Linked DNA regions of Homo sapiens: regions 1, 3 and 4 are each linked to region 2. The links come from fine-mapping of genetic effects on gene expression. A gene starts in region 2. Each other region holds a variant in brackets. All regions are shown on one strand. Distances are between the middles of the regions. Region 1 has its middle 22 kb from the start of CTSB. Region 2 holds the start of CTSB (cathepsin B). Region 3 overlaps FAM86B1 (family with sequence similarity 86 member B1 (gene/pseudogene)). Region 4 overlaps LOC105379243 (a long non-coding RNA gene).

Region 1 (5,195 bases), 22 kb after region 2:
TCGCTAGAAGCAGAAATCCGTATTTTTGGATGAAGCTTCCTGCTTTTTAAATGTTGGCTCAAATGAAAGACAAAACAGGAATCCAGGCTAGGGGAGAGGGTGACTTGGAGCAGGGGGCTTGCAGGGAGGTGTGAGAAGTGAGAATATTCTGAAGGCAGAGATTTCCTCATGGGTTGGGTGTGGGCTATGAGAGAAAAAGACAGAAAAAGAGGAAGCAGGATGATTCCAAGTTGTTTTTTTTTTTTTGAGACGGAGTCTCGCTCTGTCGCCCAGGCTGGAGTGCAGTGGCGTGATCTTGGCTCACCGGAAGCTCCACCTCCCGGGTTCACGTCATTCTCCTGCCTCAGCCTCCCGAGTAGCTGGGACTACAGGCGCCCGCAACCACACCCGGCTAATTTTTTGTACTTTTCGTAGAAATGGGGTTTCACCGTGTTAGCCAGGATGGTCTCGATCTCCTGATCTCGTGATCCACCAGCCTCAGCCTCCCAAAGTGCTGGGATTACAGGCATGACCCAATGCGCCCAGCTTCTTTTTTTTTTTTTTTTGGCTGAGCCTCTGGGCTCCTCCTAATGACCCCCTGCGTCCTGCTTTCTCCCTCACGCCTGGCATGTCAGTCTCAACGCAGCGCCCGAGGGCTTCTTTAAAACCCAAGTCAAATCATACACTCCTCTGCTCAAAGGCCACCAATCGCGCCCACACCATCAAAGTAAAAGCCCAGGCCCAGGAAGTAGAATGGGGGCTGTCAAGAGCTGGGGAAGGGGGAGCTAGTGTTTAATAGGTGTAGCGTTTCAGCTGGGGGATGAGAAAGTTCTGGAGATGGATGGTGGAGATGGTTGTGCAACAATGGGAATGCTATAAACGTGGGTGGGGAAGACTTCAGAGGAGGAAGTTTTATGGGGGAGAGCAGGAGCTCAGTTTGGGGCATGTCAAGAATGAGATGCCTTATTAAACATTCGAGCCAAGACACTGAACAGAGCTGAGTCTGGAGTTCACAGAGAGCCAAGCTGGGGACATGGATTTGCAATCAATCAGTGCACAGATGGCATCAGTTCCACGGGACTGAGAGTTCACCAGCGTAGCGAGAACAGCCAAAACCAAACCAAACCAAAACGTTCTCCACAGGTCCCAGGAGTGAGCCAGAGACTTTAAGCTGAAAGGTCAGCCATCCAAGGAGGGATCAGGAAGGGGAAGAGGAGGAACAGCAACGAGGGAGGGAGGACCGCCGGAAGGGTGAGCGCTATGCTCGTGGGCTCGGGCGGAGTGGCACCTCGGGAGCTTCCTACTATCAGGGTTTGTGCCTGCACGAATCTGTCTACAGCCACTGCTAAATCTGAGGGCCATTGGGAGGCAGTTCAGGGTTTGGAGTTGTGTGAGGAGACAAGGTTAGGGATGGGAATTGAGGAGCAGTGCAGGAGGGCCGGGCGTGTAGGGAGGTGCCCCATTGAAGGGAGTGGGAGTGTGTGGGTTGGGGAGCAGCTGTTCAGAGGGGTCCACTGTGGCCCCCAGACTCTGGGCTGATCCCCAGAGTAAAGAAGATGGACATATCCTCTAGGGACCTGCACTGTCCCCTCACACCCCCATAAGAATGGTCTGGGGCTGCTGATAGAAGGCTCCTCAGTCAACTGACTTGGGGACTGACAGGGTCTGATGGTGAGAGGCAAGGACAGGAAGGCCTGCAAAAACGAGGCCTGGTCTGTGGTATGGTCTAAATAGTGACTTCCCTCAAAGTCACACAGTGACGTCCTAAGCCCAACTACCTTAGAATGTGACTATATTTGGAGATAAGGTTTTGATTTTTGTTTTGTTTTAGAGACAGGATCTTGCTGTGTTGCCCAGGCTGGAGTGCAGTGGCATGATCATAGCTCACTGTAGCCTCTTCTACCTGGCTGAAGCGATCCTCCTGCCTCAGCCTCCTGAGTAGCTGGGACTACAGGCATGCGCCACCACACCCAGCTGTTTTTTTAAACAGTTTGTAGAGACAGAGCCTCACTATGTTGCCCTGCTGGTCTCAAACTCCTGGGCTCCAGCAATCTTTTCGCTCCCACCTCCCAAAGTGCTGGGATTACATTGTGAGCCACCACACCCAGTCTTTGGAGACACGGTCTTTAAAGAGGTAGTTAAGTTAAACGAGGCTGTTAGGGTGGGCTCTAATTCAATCTGATTGGTGTCCTTATAGGAGGAGGGAGAGACATGAAGGCTGCACATACACAGAAAAAAAAAAAAACCCAACAACATGTGGGGACACGGAGAAGGCATAGCCTGAGGAGAAACCAGCCATGCCAACACCTTGATCTCAGACTTCTAACCTCCAAAACTGTGAGAAAACGAACGCCTATTGTTAAGTTGCCCAGCCTGTGGTATTTTGTTACGGAAGCCTGAGCAAACTAACACAGCCTGGCATTTTTGCTCTGAAGTTTACAGGATTGATTGGAATTTATGGGAATAGATTTATAGTTGCACAACTCAATGCTATGCAGGGATTTTCTCCAGCGTGATTCCTTTGGTGAAACAGTGGCCCCCACTTCCTACTGTCTGCCCAAACCCAAGCCAGCGAAAGTGTCCATTCACCCATCCATTCAGTCATTTACTCATTCATTCAACAAATATTTATTGAAGACTTACTGTAAAGGTCTTATAAAAGGTGATGGAACCTTGTCCATATCAGGGTTAGACATGGCTAAGTTCTGGGGAATTAGAACATATTATTAATCTCCATAACAAATACAGCTTTTGATGACACACAGAAACGAATGAAATCGGACACAAAGTCCCAATCAGTTTTTGGAAATAATCCACAAAATAAATGGAAGTTTCAGTTCCATAAACAACTAAATTGGATCCAGATATCAGATAATTCCACATTATATTGAAAAAGAAGAAATCGGGCCAGGCATCAGCATGTTGGGAGGCTGAGGTGGGCAGATCACTTGAGGTCAGGAGTTCAAGACCAGCCTGGCCAACATGGTGAAACCTTGTCTCTACTAAAAATACAAAAATCAGCCAGGTGTGCTGGCACATGCCTGTAATCCCAGCTACTCAGGAGGCTGAGGCATGAGAATTGCTTGAACCTGGATGGCAGAGGTTGCAGTGGGCCGATTGTGCCACTGCACATGGTTTGGCTGTGTCTCCACCCAAATCTCATCTTGAATTGTAACTGCAAGAATTCCCATGTGTCGTGGGAGGAACC[T/C]GGTGGGCAGTGATTGAATAATGGGGGCAGGTCTGTCCTGCACTGTTCTTGAGATGGTGAATGAGTCTCATGAAGTCTGGTGGCTTTAGAAATGGGAGTTTCCCTGCACAAATTCTCTCTTCGCTTGTTTGCCCCCATGTGAGATGTGACTTTCACATTCCACCATGATTGTGAGGCCTCTCCAGCCATGTGGAACTTTAAGTCCAATAAACCTCTTTCTTTTGTAAATTGCCCAGTCTCTGATATGTCTTTATCAGCAGCATAAAAATGGACTAATACCATCTTGTATACTGTTTGGTTAATAAATGCCCTTCTGGGAGACAGGCCTCACAACATCCACAAAAGCTGGGCTGCTTTCTGGGGCAGAAAGAGCTTAATGAAGATTAATATCTTTGTGTTGAGTGAACTCTGAGATGGCTCCCTGTGGTCCCTGACTCCTGGTGTTCTCACCCTTGTGTAATGTCCCCAATTGTGTGCAGGCAGGACCTTCGATTTGGTTTTAACAAACAGAGAAGAGCAAAGATGATAGGATGTCACCTCTGTAAATATAAGATGACGACTTGTGTCTTGGTGGCAGACTCTCTCCTTTATAAGCTTTCATAAAGCAAGTTGCTTGATTGGGGAGGCCCACAAGGCAAGAAACACAGGGTGCCTTCTGGGAAAAAACACCTAGGAATCAAGGCCCTTTGTTCAACTGCCTAAAAGCAATTGAGTCATGTCAACGACCAAAAAGTGAGCTTGGAAGCAGATTCTCCCCAGTTGGGCCTTTCGATAAGACTCAACCTTGCCTGACACCTTGAGTGTGGTCTTGTGAGAGACCATAAAATGGAGGAACCAGCTGAGCTGTGTCCAGATTCCTGACCTACAGAAACTGTGAGAAAACGTGTGTGTGTGTGTGTGTGTGTGTGTGTGTGTGTGTGTGTGTGAGCCAGAATCTTGCTTTGTCACCCAGGCTGGAATGCAGTGGCATGATCATAGCTCACTGCATCCTTGAACTCCTGGGCTCAAGTGATCCTCCTGCCTTAGCCTTCTGAGTAGCTAGGATGGCAGGCACACATCACCATGACCAGCTAATTTAACAACTTTTATTTTTTGGTAGAGATGGTATCTCACTATGTTGCTGAGGCTGGTCTCAAACTGCTGGGCTCAAGTGATCCTCATACCTCAGCCTCCCAAAGTATTGGGATTACAAGTGTAAGCCACTTCACCCTGCCGATGTGTGTTGTTTTAGGTGCCAAATTTATGCTCCTTTGTCACTCAGCAGTAAATAGCTAAGACAATCCTAAACAAGGTTTTTGAGATGGTAGAATAAAGACTCTCTGGGGTCCAATTAGTATTGGCCTGAGGCAGATTCCCTGAACAGAAAAGGAAGTGACCAGTAAATCTGAGTCATCTGGGATGAGGCCCCTTGTTACTAAACCCTCAGATTCCTTCCTGATGAAATGAGAAGTTTGGATAGCTCTCCAAGATCCCCTCCCCTCCCCTCTCCTCTCCTCCCCTCCCCTCCTCTCCTCTCCTCTGTATTTTATTTTCTTTTGAGACAGAGTCTCACACTGTTGCCTAGACTGGAGTGCAATGGCGAGATCTCAGTTCACTGCAACCTCCACCTCCTGGGTTCATGCAATTCTCCTGCCTCATCCTCTCGAGTAGCTGTGGTTATAGGCGCACACTACCACACTCGGCTAATTTTTTTTTTTTTTGTAGTTTTAGTAGAAATGGGGTTTCACTATGTTGGCCATACTGGTCTCAAATTCCTGACCTCGTGATCAGCCCTCCTCGGCCTCCCAAAGTGCTGGGATTACAGGCATGAGCCACCGCGCCCAGCCTTTGTTTGCTTTTCTCTCTTTTTTCTTTTTTGAGACGAACTCTTGCTCTGTCGCCCAGGCTGTGGAGTGCAGTGGAGCAACCTTGGCTCACTGCAACCTTTGCCTCCCAGGTTCAGGTGATTCTCCTCCCTCAGCCTCCCAAGTAGCTGGGACCACAGGAGGGGACACGCCACCGCACCAGG
Region 2 (5,196 bases):
AACGTGGCAAAACCCCCACATTGGGATTTTTTTACATTGGATTTTTTTAGGAGAGACAAAAAATCTCTACTAAAAATAAAAAAATTAGCTGAGTGTGGAGGCACATGCCTGTAATCGCAGCTAGTTGAGAGACTGAGGCAGGAGAATGGCTTGAACACAGGAAGCGGAGTTGCAGTGAGCTGAGATCTTGCCACTGCACTCCAGCCTGGGTGAGAGAGTCAGACTCCACCTCAAAAAAAAAAAGGAGAGAGAGAAAAGAAGAATCGACATACCTGTAACTCCTCCCTCTCAATGTTTCAGTCCATATCTCGAAAGGACGGTATGTTACTCTACACAACCACAACTCATTACCAGATTTAAGAAAATTACCCCTCCACCGCGCGGTGGCTCATGCCTGTAATCCTACCACTTTGGGAGGCTGAGGCGGATCACTTGAGATCAGGAGTTCGAAAACCAGCCTGGCTAACATGGTGAAAGCCCGTCTCTACTAAAAATACAAAAAAAAAAAAAAAAGCCAGGTGTGGTGATGGGCACTGGCAATCCCAGCTACTTGGGAGGGAGGCTGAGACAGGAGAATTGCTTCAACATGAGAGGCGGAGGTGGCAGTGAACCGAGATCGCACCACTGCACTCCAGCCTGAGCGATAGAGGGAGTGTGTCTCAAAAAAAAAAAAAAAAGAAAGAAAAAGAAATTAAGAAAGAAAAGAAAATCACTGACAGACATCCCAAGGCACCCCTGAAACGTGACCTCCCTTCAATTCACTTCCCAATCCAACCAAGAGCAACAGAAAATATCTGTTACCCCTAAAATGGGTGCAACTTCTCTTCCAACTCCCAGGTCCAGCAGCTGGGGAAAGAAAAGAACCTGCCTACAAAAAGAGCCTCCCCAGTCTGCTAAATCAGCACCACATGGGCAGTTTCAACCTGGAACCAAAGGGCCACCACCCCTCACCGCCTAACCAGTTGGAAACAGGGCTGTCCTGAGCCAACACCCAGGAGAGCTGTGCCAGGGCCGTGTCTGGCCTGCGTTGCCACCTGGGGAGCAAGGGACCTGTGCCTTTCCACCAGGGGGTACCCCCAGCTAGAGGACAAATGACCAAAGACGAAGGGAAGCCTCTGTTCTCCAGGAGACGTTTGACTCTGTCTTTGGGAAAGCTACACAGGGTGGGCGGCCCAGCCCCTTTCTCCAGGAGCTGGCGGGTTCTAAGTCACCAGCACCAGAGCCAACAAGAAACAGTTCTTGGCCAGGCACCGTGACTCACCGGGAGGCCGAGACAGGCGGATCACCTGAGGTCAGGAGGTCAAGATCTGCCTGGTCAACATGGTGAAACCCCATCTCTACTAAAAATACAAAAATTAGCTGGGCGTGGTGGCGGGCACCTGTAATCCCAGCTACTCGGGAGGCTGAGGCAGGAGAATAGCTTGAATTTGGGAGGCGGAAGTTGTAGTGAGCCGAGATCGCGCCACTGTGCTCCAGCCTGAGAGACAGAGCCAGCCAACGCCCTCTTAGGCCTCTTCGCCTTACGTTCCTGAACGTTTGGATTCAAAGAGAGTGCATCTCAGCTATCCTCTCCTCCGGCAGCAGGCAGTGGGAATGTTTTTCCAGGCTACAAAAAGGTGCCAGGTCTGCATTTGAACCCCACAGCGTCACTTCTCCAGTGGGTTTGGGGGGTCTCTCGTCCGTTAGGAGGAGGAGTGTGGGGCCTGCGCTAGGGTCCTTTTCTTTGCCAGCCTGCTGGCTTTCTCAGCGCCTGGGAAGGGGGTGACAGAGGCCCACCAGGAAGCCAAGTGCAATTCACTTCCACCTGGGTCGCCCACCCCAGCCTGCCTGCAACGCCCCACACCCAGCACCCACTGCTCCCCAGAGGCCAACTCCCCCCGGCCTCCAGGGCTACTAACCGAGGGGGAGGTGGCGCCCCAGGGACTCTGCCCGGCCTCCCTTTACTGGAGTCCAGGAGCAGGGTGCGCCCCCGGCCTTCTCCCCACCGGCATCCAATCGCCCATTCGCCTCTTGGTTTCGCTGTCTGGTTTCTCTTCCTGTTTATGGATTTAACACCGTGCGGCTTCCTCCCCAGCCCACCCAGTGCCAGATTCCTGTTCTTCAACAGGACCTGTCTTCTGGGGTCCCAGGAATTGCGTGGGATCTTGCGCAGAAAGTTGGCCAGGCAAATCCTTCGCAATGAGGGGGAAATAAACCGAAAATAGATGCCGGCAGATGCGATTATGTCGGCAGTTTGGCCCGGAGACACCGAGGCCCAGGCGCTGGGAGCGCGGTCCCAGGCAGCAGTCTCCGGACCCGGCCGAGCTCTTCCTCGCAGGCGCCTCCCTCGGCGGTCCTGGCCGCGTCCCCGCTCCGAGGGCCGGGGTCCGGCGCACAGCCCGGGGAGGGGAGCGGAGGGCAGAGGGCTGGCGGGCGGAGCTGTTTTCTGCTTTTCTCGCCGACGCTTCGGAGCGCGCGGACTCCCACCCCAGCCCGCCCGTCAGGGACAGTCCCGAGGGTCCCGGCTCCCCGCCGGCCCCCAGGGACGCCGCGGGGCCGCGCCTGGGCCCGACTGAGGGCGCAGAGGAACCCGTCTCGGCGGCCGGGTAGCACCGTCCCCGCCAAGGTCACTTACGCTGCGGTGGCCCCGGGTCCCCAGCACTCACCCAGCGCTGCAGCCGAGAGCCTGCAGCCCAGCCTGCGCGCAGCGGAGCGGTTGGCGTTGCCGGAGCGGTTGCCGGAGCCCTGCAGCCGCCGTAGCCTGGGCCAGCCCCGGCCCTAAGTACCCTCCCGGCCCCGCCCCACGTGACCACCGCGCAGCCCCGCCCGGGCCCTCCCGCCGCCCGCGCACGGTGCTTCCCAGCCCCCACCCCCTCCCGCCACCTTCCGCCGCCCGCGCTCCCCGCTTCCCGGCCCCGCACACCCCCCGCCCCCTTCCGCTCGGGGTCCGGGGCCACCGCCGGGGGCGGGCGGGGGCCTGAGCGCGCGGGCTGGGGAAGAAGGGCTTGGAGCCCTGCGGGCCCTGGGTGGCGAAACGCTGCGAATTGGGGCCAGGGGATGGGGAAAAAGCCCCTAAAGGTGGTCCCAAGGCCCCCACCCCGCCTAGAAAAGTCCCCCCGCCTCGCGGGACCGCCTCCGCCAGAACCCGCGCCTGGGATCCCTGCCTGCCGAGTTGGCGGGGGTGGGGTGGTGGAGAGGGCGCCGTCGCTTATTTCATTCATTCAGAAGCCGCTGCAGAGGCTGGGGGTGGCGAGGCTGTGGACCCCACAGAACAGCCTTTAGAAGGGCCACTTTGTTGTTCAGAGAACGTACCCACAAAACACTACAGCTACGTACAAATAGAAAAGAGTGGCTGTCACTGCGAAGGAACCTAGGAGCTGCGTCAGGATTTCTAAGAGGAGAAGGACCTTGGGGGCGGAAATCGGTTTGGCACAGGAGTACCCGGAGACCTGCTCCGAGAGGACGGACAAAGTGCACATTTACTTGGGGTTTATTACCGGGAGGCCCTGGAAGGGAGATGCAGGGGTTGGCTCAAGACTCACCCTCCTCCAGACACTCCCCAAACAGCTTTAATCCTTAAGACAAACCTGCAAAGCAGGCATGACCCCAGTTGTATTCAAGAGGCTCAGAGGGGCTGGGTTCGGTGGCTCACGCCTGTAATCCCAGCATTTTGGGAGGCCGAGGCCGGTGAGTCACCTGAGGTCGGGAGTTCGAGACCATCCTGACCAACATGGAGAAACCCCGTCTCTACTAAAAATACAAAACTAGCCGGGCGTGGTGGCGCGTGTCAGTAATCCCAGCTACTCGGGAGACTGAAGCAGGAGAATCGCTTGAACCCGGGAGGCGGAGGTTGCGGTGACCAGAGATCGCACTATTGCACTCCAGCCTAGGCAACAAGAGTGAAACTCTGTATTAAAAAAAAAAAAAAGGCTCAGAAGAATCGTATTTTATCCAGGCTGTGGCGACAGTAAGAAGGCAGTAGCCGGGTGCAGTGGCTCACGCCTGTAATCCCAGCACTTTGGGAGGCCGAGGCGGGCGGATCACGAGGTCAGGAGATCAAGATTATCCTGGCTAACACGGTGAAACCCCGTCTCTAGTAAAAATACAAAAAATTAGCCGGGCGTGGTGGCGGGCGCCTGTAGTCCCAGCTACTCGGGAGGCGGAGGCAGGAGAATGGCGTGAACCCGTGAGCTGAGATCGTGCCACTGCACTCCAGCCTGGGCGAAAAGCGAGACTCCGCCTCAAAAAAAAAAAAAAAAAAAAAAAAAAAGGCAGTAGGACTGCATGGGACCTGGTTCCCTGCAGCCTGGTCGTCAGCTGTCACACAGCCCTGAGCCTGTCTTCAGAGACATGCCTGTACTCCCGCCTGGTTAGTAACAAACTAAGGATAGGAGTGGAAGGAAAAAATAATCTCTGGAGCCCAAACATGGTCACTAAGCCCCCAGCAGAGTGGGATACCCGAGGAACTGAGGACCAGGAGGCTGGAGGTCAAGGTGGTCCCAACTGCCTGCTCACCCTAGTCATATCCTGACAGCCATGGACTCTGGACTCCAAATCATTTCAGACCTCTATAAGGAGCTCATAAGATGGCCAAAATGGGGAGGACACAGCCAGAACCAGGATAACTCTCCCCTCTCTCATCCTTAGAGTGTGACAGAAGGTATGCAGAGCAGAGTGCTTGACATGCGTTATGGCTATTTGATGGAATTTTCCATCAGTGTCATTATAGAAATCACTTTTGAGAGGTAAAAATCACTTTTGAAACAAAAGAAACAGGCTAGGCGCGGTGGTTCACCACTGTAATCCTAGCACTTTGGGAGGCTGAGGCAGGCAGATCACCTGAGGTCGGGAGTTCCAGACCAGCCTGGCCCAAATGGTGAAACCCAGTCTCTACTAAAAATACAAAAATTAGCTGGGCGTGGTGGTTCACGCGCCTGTAATCCCAGCTACTTGAGAGGCTGAGGCAGGAGAATCGCTTGAGCCCGGGAGGTGGAGGTTGCGGTGAGCCAAAATCACGCCATTGCACTCCAACCCGGGCAAGATTCCATCTCAAAAGAAAAGAAAAGAAAAAAAGAAATAGGCCAGGCGCAGTGGCTCACGCCTGTAATCCCAGCACTTTGGGAGGCCAAGGCAGGCGGATCACGACGTTGGAAGTTCAAGACCAGCCTGGCCAACATGGTGAAACCCCGTCTCTACTAAAAATACAAAAATTAGCTG
Region 3 (5,196 bases), 310 kb after region 2:
GAGATGGGGATTCACCATGTTGGCCAGGCTGGTCTTGAACTCCTGACCTCAGGTGATCCACCCGCCTTGGCCTCCCAAAATGCTGGGATTACAGGCGGGAGGTGAACCTGGGAGGTGGAGGTTGCAGGGAGCTGAGATTGTGCCACTGCACTCCAGCCTGGGTGACAGAGTGAGACTCTGTCTCAAAACAAAACAAACAACAACAACAAAAAAACAAATTGTGGTTACGTAGAAAAAGTGTCAACTTACATTTTCAGATGTCCCAGCCAGGCCGTGTGGCTGCTTGGCCAGCTTAAGCCACTTGTGCTTGGGGCTGTCGGGGGCCTTATCCAATTTTCACTCCCCTCGGGGGATGTTGTCTCACTGTGCTGGGAGGATTTGTGTTCCCAGGGCAGAGACCAGCACTCTGACCCACCCCTCTTGCCTAGCAGGGTTGGTGGACCTGGGTGTCTCTCTGGACACATCCTCCAGTGGCCTGGACCTGCCCATGAAGGTGGTGGACATGTTCAGGTGCTGTTTGCCTGCGTGTGCCGTGAACTTCAAGTGGTAGGAGCAGAACCCGAATCTTTCTGGGGATAGCTTCACAGATCCACCGCTGACGGGGAAGCAGTGCAGAGTGAGCTGCCCAAAGTGAGGCCCTGCCCCTTGGTCAGTCCAGCACACACTGGAGGCCACGAGGAGGAGCCCTGCGGTTACTGTGGCTGGGCTGAGCCTCACTGAAGTAGGTGCTTCCATTTAGAGCTCATGCTATATTTAGGTTGGTACAAAAGTAATCACGGTTTTTGCCATTAAAACTGAAAATTACTTTTGCACCAACCCAATATGAAAAAAAAATAAAGCACCTTAAATACTAGAACTCCACTCGGGGCTTTTGCTCCTAGAGTAGAATTGGCGGGAAATGCCTGCAGGCTTACATGGTTTTCTTTGTTTTTCTCTCCCACCATGTCCCTTTTGGCCAAGCTCACATGGTGGGTTTGAATGAGTTAAATGAGTGTCATGCTGTGGCCTCACTCCACCCAGCATAGACGGGTGTTTGGAAGGGTGGCATTAGAGGAGATTCTAGAAGCAGTAGCCCCAGCACAAGTTGAGCCCTTGGCCCCTGCTCAGCAGCCGGCTCCTGGATGGGATTCAGGGATGCGAGCCCCTCGTGTGAGCTGAGCTCAGGGAATGTGGGGATCAAATCTGGTGTCCTAGAAAAGTCATCTTTTATGTGCTGAACCAGTCCCCAGGGGGTTGCCTTTACTTGTTCCATGGCCATGGAATTAAGAAAAACATGCAAAAGTAATTCTTCAGTACTTGAAGAGCATCCAGCACAGAAGGTACAAACCTTCCTTAAGGCTCCCTCCTCAAATCGGTTTGGTCATTTTGATGTGCACCCCCCCAGGCCTTTATACCCTTCAGATGCCAAATCTAAGAACCAGCTCCCAGAAACCACACCCCCTGTTCCAAACCCCAGCCTGGCTTGAGCGTGGGGTGGGTGGGATCCCAGCTGGGCACCCCAGGAGTCTGGTGTCTTCCCCAGGCAGCTCTCAGGCTCCCTTGGTTCTGTCTGCAGTTTACATGAGCTGGTGAAACATGTAGAAAATGGCCTGATCTTTGAGGAGTCAGAGGAACTGGCAGCTCAGCTGCAGGTAGCCATGTCTGCCACCACGCCAGGGTGGGCAGGGTTCTGGAGACTGGCATCGAGCCACGCTCCCTGATCCCTGCTTCCCACAGCCAGGGTGGGACCATGGGGGGTCTGGTGGAAAAGCTAGTGGGGGAGCAGAAGTCACAGAGGCCTCCTACTCTGCTGTCCCATTTCGGTACAGTAGGCTCGGGAAAGTTAGGACACAACCCCACCTGCCCTCTGGATTTATGGAGCTGACACTCCATAAACGATGCTGGAGCCGGGTGGGCCGGGCTGCAGTTTAGGAAGTGATCGGATCAGGTAGGTGCGTGGGCAAAGGGAACTTCTGGGACCAGCCTTGAAAGATGGGTGGAATTCTGCAAAGGTTACTTGTTTCTTATTGCAAAAAGTAATACATCATTCTTGTCAACAGAATGATTGGGAGGATTTTCAGTAAATGTCCAGGTCAGAAGTCATTTAGACAGGGTACCCCAGTCTCTGTCAGAACCATGGTACTCTGTTGTGGTGTGAAAGTAGCCACAGATCATCTGTAGATTAAGGGGTGTGGCTTTGTTCCAACAAAGCTTTATTTACAAACACAGGCTGTGGGCTGGATTTGGCCTGCAGGCTGTAGTTTGTGATCCTTGATTCAGACAGTTTAGCAAGGCTGAAAAGAACACCCACACCCCCTTGTTACCCACAGATGGGTGGGACTGTGTTGGCCAGAGGCCGAGAGGAGGGTGCTCACAGGGGAACGTACAGCATGTAGAGGCCGGAAGGTGCTCCAGGGCACCAAGTGTGGGAAAGTG[G/A]GACATACGGGGAAGTTTCCAGAAAGCATGATGTCAAGTTGGAAGTGGAGCGCTGCTGGGTTGTGAAGGGTCTCAAGTCCAAGTGAGGGGGGTTGTGAAGGGTCTCAAGTCCAAGTGAGGGAGTTAGGGACTTGGGAGGGGTTGTTGTTGGGTCGGGGACCTGGGGTCATCCAAGTGGTGACCTGGGATGGGGTGGGGACAGGCAATGAGTTAAGCTCTGCTCTTTAGCATTTTGCAGATGCTTTTCTCAAACTTTTCTGATCCTGCAGGCAAGCTAAGCCAGTTCTGGAAGAACCTGCAAGAGTCTCAGCAGCTCTGATGGGATGAGAGCTGGGTGCAGACTGTGCTCCCTTTGGTTATGGACACATAACTCCTGGGCCAGAGGCTAAAACCCCAGGGCCCCTGCTGTCCTTCCCGCAGCTTCTTGGAGTCTCAGGGCAAAGCCTTTCGAGCAGCGCCTCCCAGTGGCCAGAAGCTGAAATGACGGCAGTGGTGTCACCTGGTGAATGACCCGGGAAGCTGTGGTTGGCCCTGATTTCTTCTTTGGAGTCTCTGAAATGCTTCCTGTCTTCTGTTCTTCATGCCCCATGCCCCTGCTAGCGTATTACTGTTCTGTGACTTCCCTGTGACCTCTGCAGTACTCCTCATCCTGCATTTGGTCTCCAGGTGTCACCTTTCTGCCGTGTTCCTAACACTTTCATTCCTGTCTTGAAAAAAGCGCCTGCTGCACCATAAGCCCTGGGATGTGGCAGCTGCAGCGGGCTTGGCTTTGTGAGGAACCGAGTGTGTCCAGGGATGTGGCAGCTGCAGCGGGCTTGGCTTTGTGAGGAACCGAGTGTGTCCAGGGATGTGGCAGCTGCAGCGGGCTTGGCTTTGTGAGGAACCGAGTGTGTCCAGGGATGTGGCAGCTGCAGCGGGCTTGGCTTTCTGAGGAACCGAGTGTGTCCACGTTGGGGGAACGTCATCCTTGATACACACGTTTTTATTTGCAGAAAGAAAATGCTATTTTTGGAGCTAGAATTTTCATGTCTGATTTATGATGATTTTCTTGAGAACCAGAACTGCTGGCAGAAAGGGGGCACCCACACGCCTAGACAGCTAATGTCTTATTAGAGGGCAGTTTTGATTCCTGATTTGGAGTTTAATAATCTCCAAACATTCCAGTCCAATGAAAGTTTTATCCACTTTCCCATATAAAAATTCTTCCCACGAGAGTGACTTGATTCTCACAATCCCTTTGGAGTCATGTGTGAGTCCTACAGTGTGAGGTTCAGCATTGCCATCTCCAAGTGCTCTCCATAGGGAAACAGTTTCTGGTCATGATGAGCTTCCGCTTCCCATCTGATCCCATCCCGGCCTGGAAACAAAGCACGTGTTTGAGGATGGCGGTGTTTGGGGACAGGACATGAGCGTTTTGTGTGGGGCTGCTAGGACAGGCCTGGCGGGGTGGGGGGTGTCTAAGTCAGTTTACTTGGTTCACAGGTTCCGAGGCCCACCCACATACCTAGAATTCGCCTCCAGGATGGGACCAGAACTCTGGTTTTGCATAGAAATGGCTAGCAGCAGGCACCATGCCGCTGTCCACTCTGTGCCTGCGTCTGCCCCAGCACTTGGCACAGCAGGACAGAAGCAGAGATCTGAACCCACATCTCCCTGGCTGCTCAGTCAACTCACTCTTCACAAAGCTTAGAAAGTGGCCGGGCACAGCCAGACTCTGTCTCAAAAAAAAAAAAAAGGTTGGTTGAGGCTTATACTATGTGTGCTGCTTGGCACTGTTTTTTTCACTTAAAAGATATTGCAGGTTTTTTTTCACGTAAGTATCTGAAGAAAGACTTCCTTTTTTTTTTTTTTTTTTTTTTTTTTTGCTTTTTTGCTTTTTTGAGACAGGGTCTTGCTCTGTTACCCACGCTGGAGTGCAGTGGTGAGATCAGGGCTCACTGCAGCCTCCACCTCATGGGCTGAAGCCATCCTCCCACCTCAGCCTCCCGAGTAGCTGGGACTACAGGTGTGTGCAACCACATCTGGCTAGTTTCTGTATGTTTTGTGAAGATGGGGTCCCACTATGTGGCCCAAGTTGGTCTTGAACACTTGGGGTCAAGTAGTCCTCCTGCTTTAGCTTCCTAAAGTGCTGGGATGACAGGCCTGAGCCCCGCGCCCGGCCAGCCTCCTGTGCGAGGTTGTGTGGGACTCTGTCATGGAACCCAGTATGCCTTCATGTGCTGGCTTGTTTGTTGACTCTGTAGTTAATGGGCTGCCCCACGTGGACAGGCACTGGGTCATCCATGTCTCTGTGTACAGGCAGAGGCTGCTGCGGGTACATCTGTGCACATGGCTGCCAGGAGGGGCTGTGCTCAGGGGGAGCTGGGGCAGAGGCTGGTGGCAATGGGGGGCTTGGGTGTAGTGTGGAGGCACGAGAGCCAGGTGGCCGGGCTGCAGTCTGCGGGAGCTCGGGGGTCACTTGGCCTCTGTGTGTCCTAGTGTCTTTGTCGGTGAGATGGGACAATGACAGCACACCCTCACAGGTGCTGGGGGTTGACAAATGTCAGGTCTGAGGACAGTGGCTGGCCCACTACGGGGCCAGTTTCCCTTCTCTATAGTCACCCTGCTCGTCTTCCATCAACTGGGTGCTCAGGACAGTGGCGTGGTGGATCCGCCTGTACAGCCTGTGCTCCAGCGTCCTGCAGTCCACAGCTGTGTCCAGCCCTGACCCCGACTGCCGCTCCCGCCACCTCCATTTTATAGATGAGGAAACCGAGGCCCAAGGGCTTAGGGAACCCTGCT
Region 4 (5,000 bases), 74 kb before region 2:
TACTGTCGGTAGGTAATATGGTTAGTTTGTAGGGAAAAGAGCGTATGAGCACATGCTTGTGTATTTCGGCCTTTGCCCCAGTAGATCAGACAATGACATTCTAGTCTTGATGTTACTAAGTTTTAGCAGACACTAGCAAGTGGTTTGTATTTAACCACAGCCATGAAGCAGACAGACTGAGGCACAGATTTTAGTGGCTTTGTGGCAATAAATAGGGCATGGTGTGCCTTAGGAAAAGAATGTTTATAAAGGGAACTATAACTGAAATTAAAGGAGGCGGCAGTGAAGAGGAAATAATTATCTTCTATCTAAATGATATACATATGATATTTTGAGATTTTTATAACTGCAGTGGAACACAATTCTGGGTAGAGTAGAAAAAGGAAAGGTTTAAAGACATATAAAAGATTCTTGTTGACAATTTATTTTTGGTAGCAAATCTCAAATGATTACCTGCTATTAAGGGCTGCCATATCAGAGTTTTGCACTATTTTGCTACCAAGTTTGATTCGTACATCTAAAACATTTTGTAGTTGATTGTCAAGGACTTAATTTGAAAATCATTTGCCAGGCCACATAGTTATCAATTTTCTTTCTAGCAGCTATTCTGTTGTATTTTTAAAACATTTTTTAGATGACTTTTTAAAGTCTATTTAGCAGTAACCTTAAGAGGTGCATATTAGTAAAATAAATCTCTTCTTGTCATTTAGCCTTCATCAAATAATAGGTACCAATGTATTAAAAATATGTGGTTTTTTTTTTTTTGGCAGCCCTTTGAACCAGAGTAGGTTCAGAGAAACTCCCAAAATTTGTATTTTAGACACGTCATGCTTGATTGGTAACTTCCCTCCTTTTTTGGGGAACATGTTTGTGTCCTATTAACTTAATTGGATAGATTTTTAAGTATTTCTTATTTTTGGCACACAGGATGGTTAGAATACAGAACTTTGATTTTTGGTGTAGATACGGAGAGAATGATGGGTAAATTTCCTAGGTTTATATGAATTTAGGGGGTGTACGCATTTTGAAACGCTATTAACAGATGGTGCTGAAATCTATTGCCTACATGTTTTCTAGCTCTTTAGCATTATGTTAATGAAGCCTCCATATAAGGAGTGTTTCTCTGGCACAGTTGGTAAGTTGACTGCTAACTTCATTGAAATGTGTTACTGGATATGCAGTATACTGAAATTATTGATCTTTTTTGTGTATAGGAAAAGAGAAGTGGGTTAAAAGAAGCAAATTAACTTGTTCTGAAAAGAAAGTATAGATTAATTTTGTTTTCTGTTTAAATTTTATCTCCTTGGTAAGACTTTTTTTCCAAGGCAGAAAGCTTGGCATTTTTAGGCATAGATCCCTTACCTTATAATGTCAAAATGAATTTAATTCCAGTACTCAGGTTTTTCCCTTTAACAGACTCTATGTGTATCAGGGCTTTCTAATGGGTTTTTCCTCTTTGTTTTTAAAATGTGAGCAGCTTTTGACCAATTTCCAGTGCTCTTAGCATTTTACTTAAAGAACAACCACTAAAAAAGAAAAACTTCGTAATTTGCTTGTCTTTTGCTTTGCTTTATTAATGTCTAAGAACTTAAGAATACTCCTACCTCATTAGCTACTCAAGATGCTGTGACGACCAAATCTATTCTACATAATGTGTTTAGAAACAAAGACTTGGGTGAAAAATGAAATAAGTATATTCTGACTTGGCTATTGAGGGTAAAAAGAAAGAATTAAGTATTAAGTGTTCCTTGTAGGAGATATGTTAGTAGAATACCATAAAAGTTTGAAAATTTTAAAAAGTACTAATATTTAGGTATCCTGAAATTATTTGCAGTTCATTTTTTATGGAAATTAATCCAGTGAATCACGCAAAAGTTTTTTTTTTAAATGGTGTTTTTCCAGATCAACTCTAGGGTAAACATTCACATAATCACAAATATGCAATTCTGTAATTGTGAAATGCCTGTATGTTTTGTTTTCATACATCTTCCTTGGAGATGTCTGAATATAATACTCCATCTATGAATATTTTAAATGTTGAAATAAAAGTAAGAAATGTGAAAAAAAAAAATGAAGGCTAGGGAGGAGAGCAAAGGATGAATATAACGTGAAAATGTATGTATAGTTAGTTCAGGGGAGAAAACCAGGAGAGAGAGAGAGAAAGCTCACACCAGAGCTGTCGCTTAAAGATGACTGGACTAGGGTGGGAAGAGAAAGAATAACAAGTCCCTAGAAAATTTGCTAAAAGTGAGGCCTTTGGGGTACAGAAGAGTGGGCAGGTTTGTAACGGCTGTAAGGGAAACGTGATCACTTCGGGTTAGAGGGAAGGGCTGTAGAGCCACATGGCAAGCCCAGGACACCTGTGCATTTCCTGACTTTCCCTGACAGCATCCAGTGGCTTAGGATAAAAAATGGAGACATTGGATGTTGGATTACCCCACAATGGACATGGACGTTTGTCAGGGTAAGGATGGTGGGAGACCTAAGGGACAAGGAGAAACATTATTTTTTTAAAATTACAGACGTCAAAAGAGTCACACAATACAAAGTTTATAGAGTGAAACATGAAAGAATGACCTTCATCCCTGCCTTAGGAGGATCTCTGGAGCAGCTTTGCTCATAGTGTCTCTGACTGCAGTGACTTACGGAAAAAACTAATAATTGGGAAAATACTAGTACCTAACAGTTGAGACTAAGTGTTGTGGTTGGTGCCGTTGGAACTCCATGGAACATGTTCCTCATGGAAGAGGTGGGGAAGGGGGAATGTGGGCAGGTAACAACCCACACTCCCATGCTTCTCTCCCAGTGAGTGAGATCTAATTCACCCTGGCAGTAGGT[C/T]CTCAGTGGGTTTCAGGTTGGTTCCAAAAGGAGGTAGGGCCTGGTGCAGTGGCTCACGCCTGTAATCCCAGCACTTTGGGAGGCTGAGGCAGGAGGATTGCTTGACCCCGGGAGTTCGAGACCAGCCTGGGCAACATAGCGAGACCCCATCTCTACAAAAAATACAAAAATTAGCCAGGCATGGTGATGCATACCTGTAGTCCCAGCTACTAGGGAGGTTGAGGTGGAAGGATCACTTGAGCCCAGGAGGTCAAGGCTGCAGTGAGCCGAGATGATGTCACTGTACTCCAGTCTGGGTGACAGAGTAAGACCTTGTCTCAAAAATAAAAAAATAAAAATTTTAAATAAATACATAAAAGGAGGTAGGCACGATATGTTGTAAGTGGACTGAAAGAGAGGAGATGGTACAGAGACAGCAGGGTGGAGTGTGACCAGTGGCGGTTATGCCTTTTGTGCCTGTGCCTGTTGCCTGGAAGGAGGAGAGGTTTTCGCTTGACAGGACTGTGAAGGAGGGCACGGAAATATGGGGGGTCGGGGGTGAATCTAGGCTTCCATCTTAGTAAGGAGAGGCGGGATACGTGTGAGAGGCGGCAGCATGCTGGCAGCCCTGCAGCCCTTGCTCGCTCTCGGTGCCTCCTCGGCCTCGGCGCCCATTCTGGCCGCGCTTGAGGAGCCCTTCAGCCCACCGCTGCACCGTGGGAGCCCTTCTCTGGGCTGGCCTAGTCCGGAGCCGGCTCCCTCGGCTTGCGGGGAGGTGTGGAGTGAGAGGCACTGGCGGGAACCAGGGCTGCGCGCGGCGCTTGCGGGCCAGCGCAAGTTCCGGGTGGGCGTGGGCTCGGCGGGCCGCACTTGGAGCGGGCGGCCGGCCCCGCCGGCCAGGGCAGTGAGGGGCTTAGCACCTGGGCCAGCAGCCGCCGTGCTTGATTTCTCAACAGGCCTTAGCTGCCTCCCCGCGGGGCAGGGCTCGGGACCTGCAGCCCGCCATGCCTGAGCCTCCCCCGCGCCGCCGCCGTGGGCTCCTGCGCGGCCCAAGCCTCCCCGACGAGCGCCACCCCCTGTTCCACGGCGCCCAGTCCCGTCGACCGCCCAAGAGCTGAGGAGTGCGGGCGGATGGCACGGGAGTGGCAGGCAGCTCCACCTGCGGCCCTGCGCGGGATCCACTGGGTGAAGCCAGCTGGGCTCCTGAGTCTGGTGGGGACTTGGAGAATATTTATGTCTAGCTAAGGGATTGTAAATACACCAATCAGCACTCTGTATCTAGCTCAAGGTTTGTAAACACACCAATCAGCACCCTGTGTCTAGCTCAGAGTTTGTAAATACACCAATGGACACTCTGTATCTAGCTAATCTAGTGGGGAGGTGGAGACCTTTTATGTCTAGCTCAGGGATTGTAACCGCACCAATCAGCACCCTGTCAAAACGGACAAATCAGCTCTCTGTAAAACAGACCAATCGGCTTTCTGTAAAATGGACCAATCAGCAGGGTGTGGGTGGGGCCAGATAAGAGCATAAAAGCGGGCTGCCTTAAAAAAAACGGTGGCAACACGCTGGGTTTGCTTTACAACGCTTGGGAAGCTTTGTTGTTTGCAATAAATTTTAATACTTGTCTGTTTCGGTCTGCACTGCCTTTATGAGCTGTAACACTCACAGGGTAGGTTTGCAGCTTCACTCCTGAAGCCAGTAAGACAACGAACCCACTGGGAGAAACAAACAACTCCAGACGCGCCGACTTAAGAGCTGTAATACTCGCTGTGACGGTCTGCAGCTTCACTCCTGAGCCAGCGAGACCACGAACCCACCAGAAGGAAGAAACTCCGAACACATCTGAACATCAGAAGGAACAGACTCCGGACACGCCGCCTTTAAGAACTGTAACACTCACCGCGAGGGTGGGCGGTTTCATTCCTGAAGTCAGTGAGACCAAGAACCAACCAATTCCGGACACACTTGGACTCGACAGACTCTAAGGTGAAAGATTGGTTTAGTTCATGAGTTGGGGTTTTGTGATAACTGACATTGTGAAAAACGGGGGATTTAACATAGATTTTCACAGTGGCTTTAGACATTTCATAAATATTTCTTAAATGCCTCCTAAATGCTAGGATTTGGCAATACAAGGCTAAACAAAATACAAAGCCAAATCCTACTGTAATGGGAGTATG

Evidence for each region. PIP is the estimated chance that this variant, and not a neighbour inherited with it, causes the effect.
Region 1: its variant is the best candidate, but not a certain one, in a credible set for the expression of CTSB in lung (TOPMed, PIP 0.55).
Region 3: its variant is the best candidate, but not a certain one, in a credible set for the expression of CTSB in prefrontal cortex (GTEx, PIP 0.62).
Region 4: its variant is the best candidate, but not a certain one, in a credible set for the expression of CTSB in skeletal muscle (FUSION, PIP 0.81).

What each region holds. Positions count from the first base shown.
Region 1 is chr8:11,887,172-11,892,366 of GRCh38, forward strand. No RefSeq gene overlaps it. Among named protein-coding and RNA genes, the nearest start is that of CTSB, 22 kb to the left of the region's middle. RefSeq lists a silencer at 3,954-4,137. The variant T/C (reference allele first, on the strand shown) is at 3,188.
Region 2 is chr8:11,865,356-11,870,551 of GRCh38, forward strand. CTSB (cathepsin B) reads right to left here and starts at 2,732. Exons shown (of 10, transcript NM_001908.5): 1 at 2,646-2,732. RefSeq lists an enhancer at 1,996-2,205 and silencers at 2,296-2,625, 2,766-2,885.
Region 3 is chr8:12,179,935-12,185,130 of GRCh38, forward strand. FAM86B1 (family with sequence similarity 86 member B1 (gene/pseudogene)) reads right to left here. Exons shown (of 7, transcript NM_001083537.4): 7 at 2,172-3,772. The coding sequence ends at 3,672. It also overlaps the pseudogene ALG1L11P. Among named protein-coding and RNA genes, the nearest start is that of FAM85A, 3.2 kb to the right of the region's middle. RefSeq lists enhancers at 1-493, 494-1,004, 1,144-1,645, 1,646-2,145. The variant G/A (reference allele first, on the strand shown) is at 2,416.
Region 4 is chr8:11,791,206-11,796,205 of GRCh38, forward strand. The region is part of intron 1 of LOC105379243 (a long non-coding RNA gene); the gene reads right to left. It also overlaps the pseudogene SUB1P1 and a transcript of FDFT1 not described here. Among named protein-coding and RNA genes, the nearest start is that of FDFT1, 9.0 kb to the right of the region's middle. RefSeq lists an enhancer at 4,035-4,329. The variant C/T (reference allele first, on the strand shown) is at 2,839.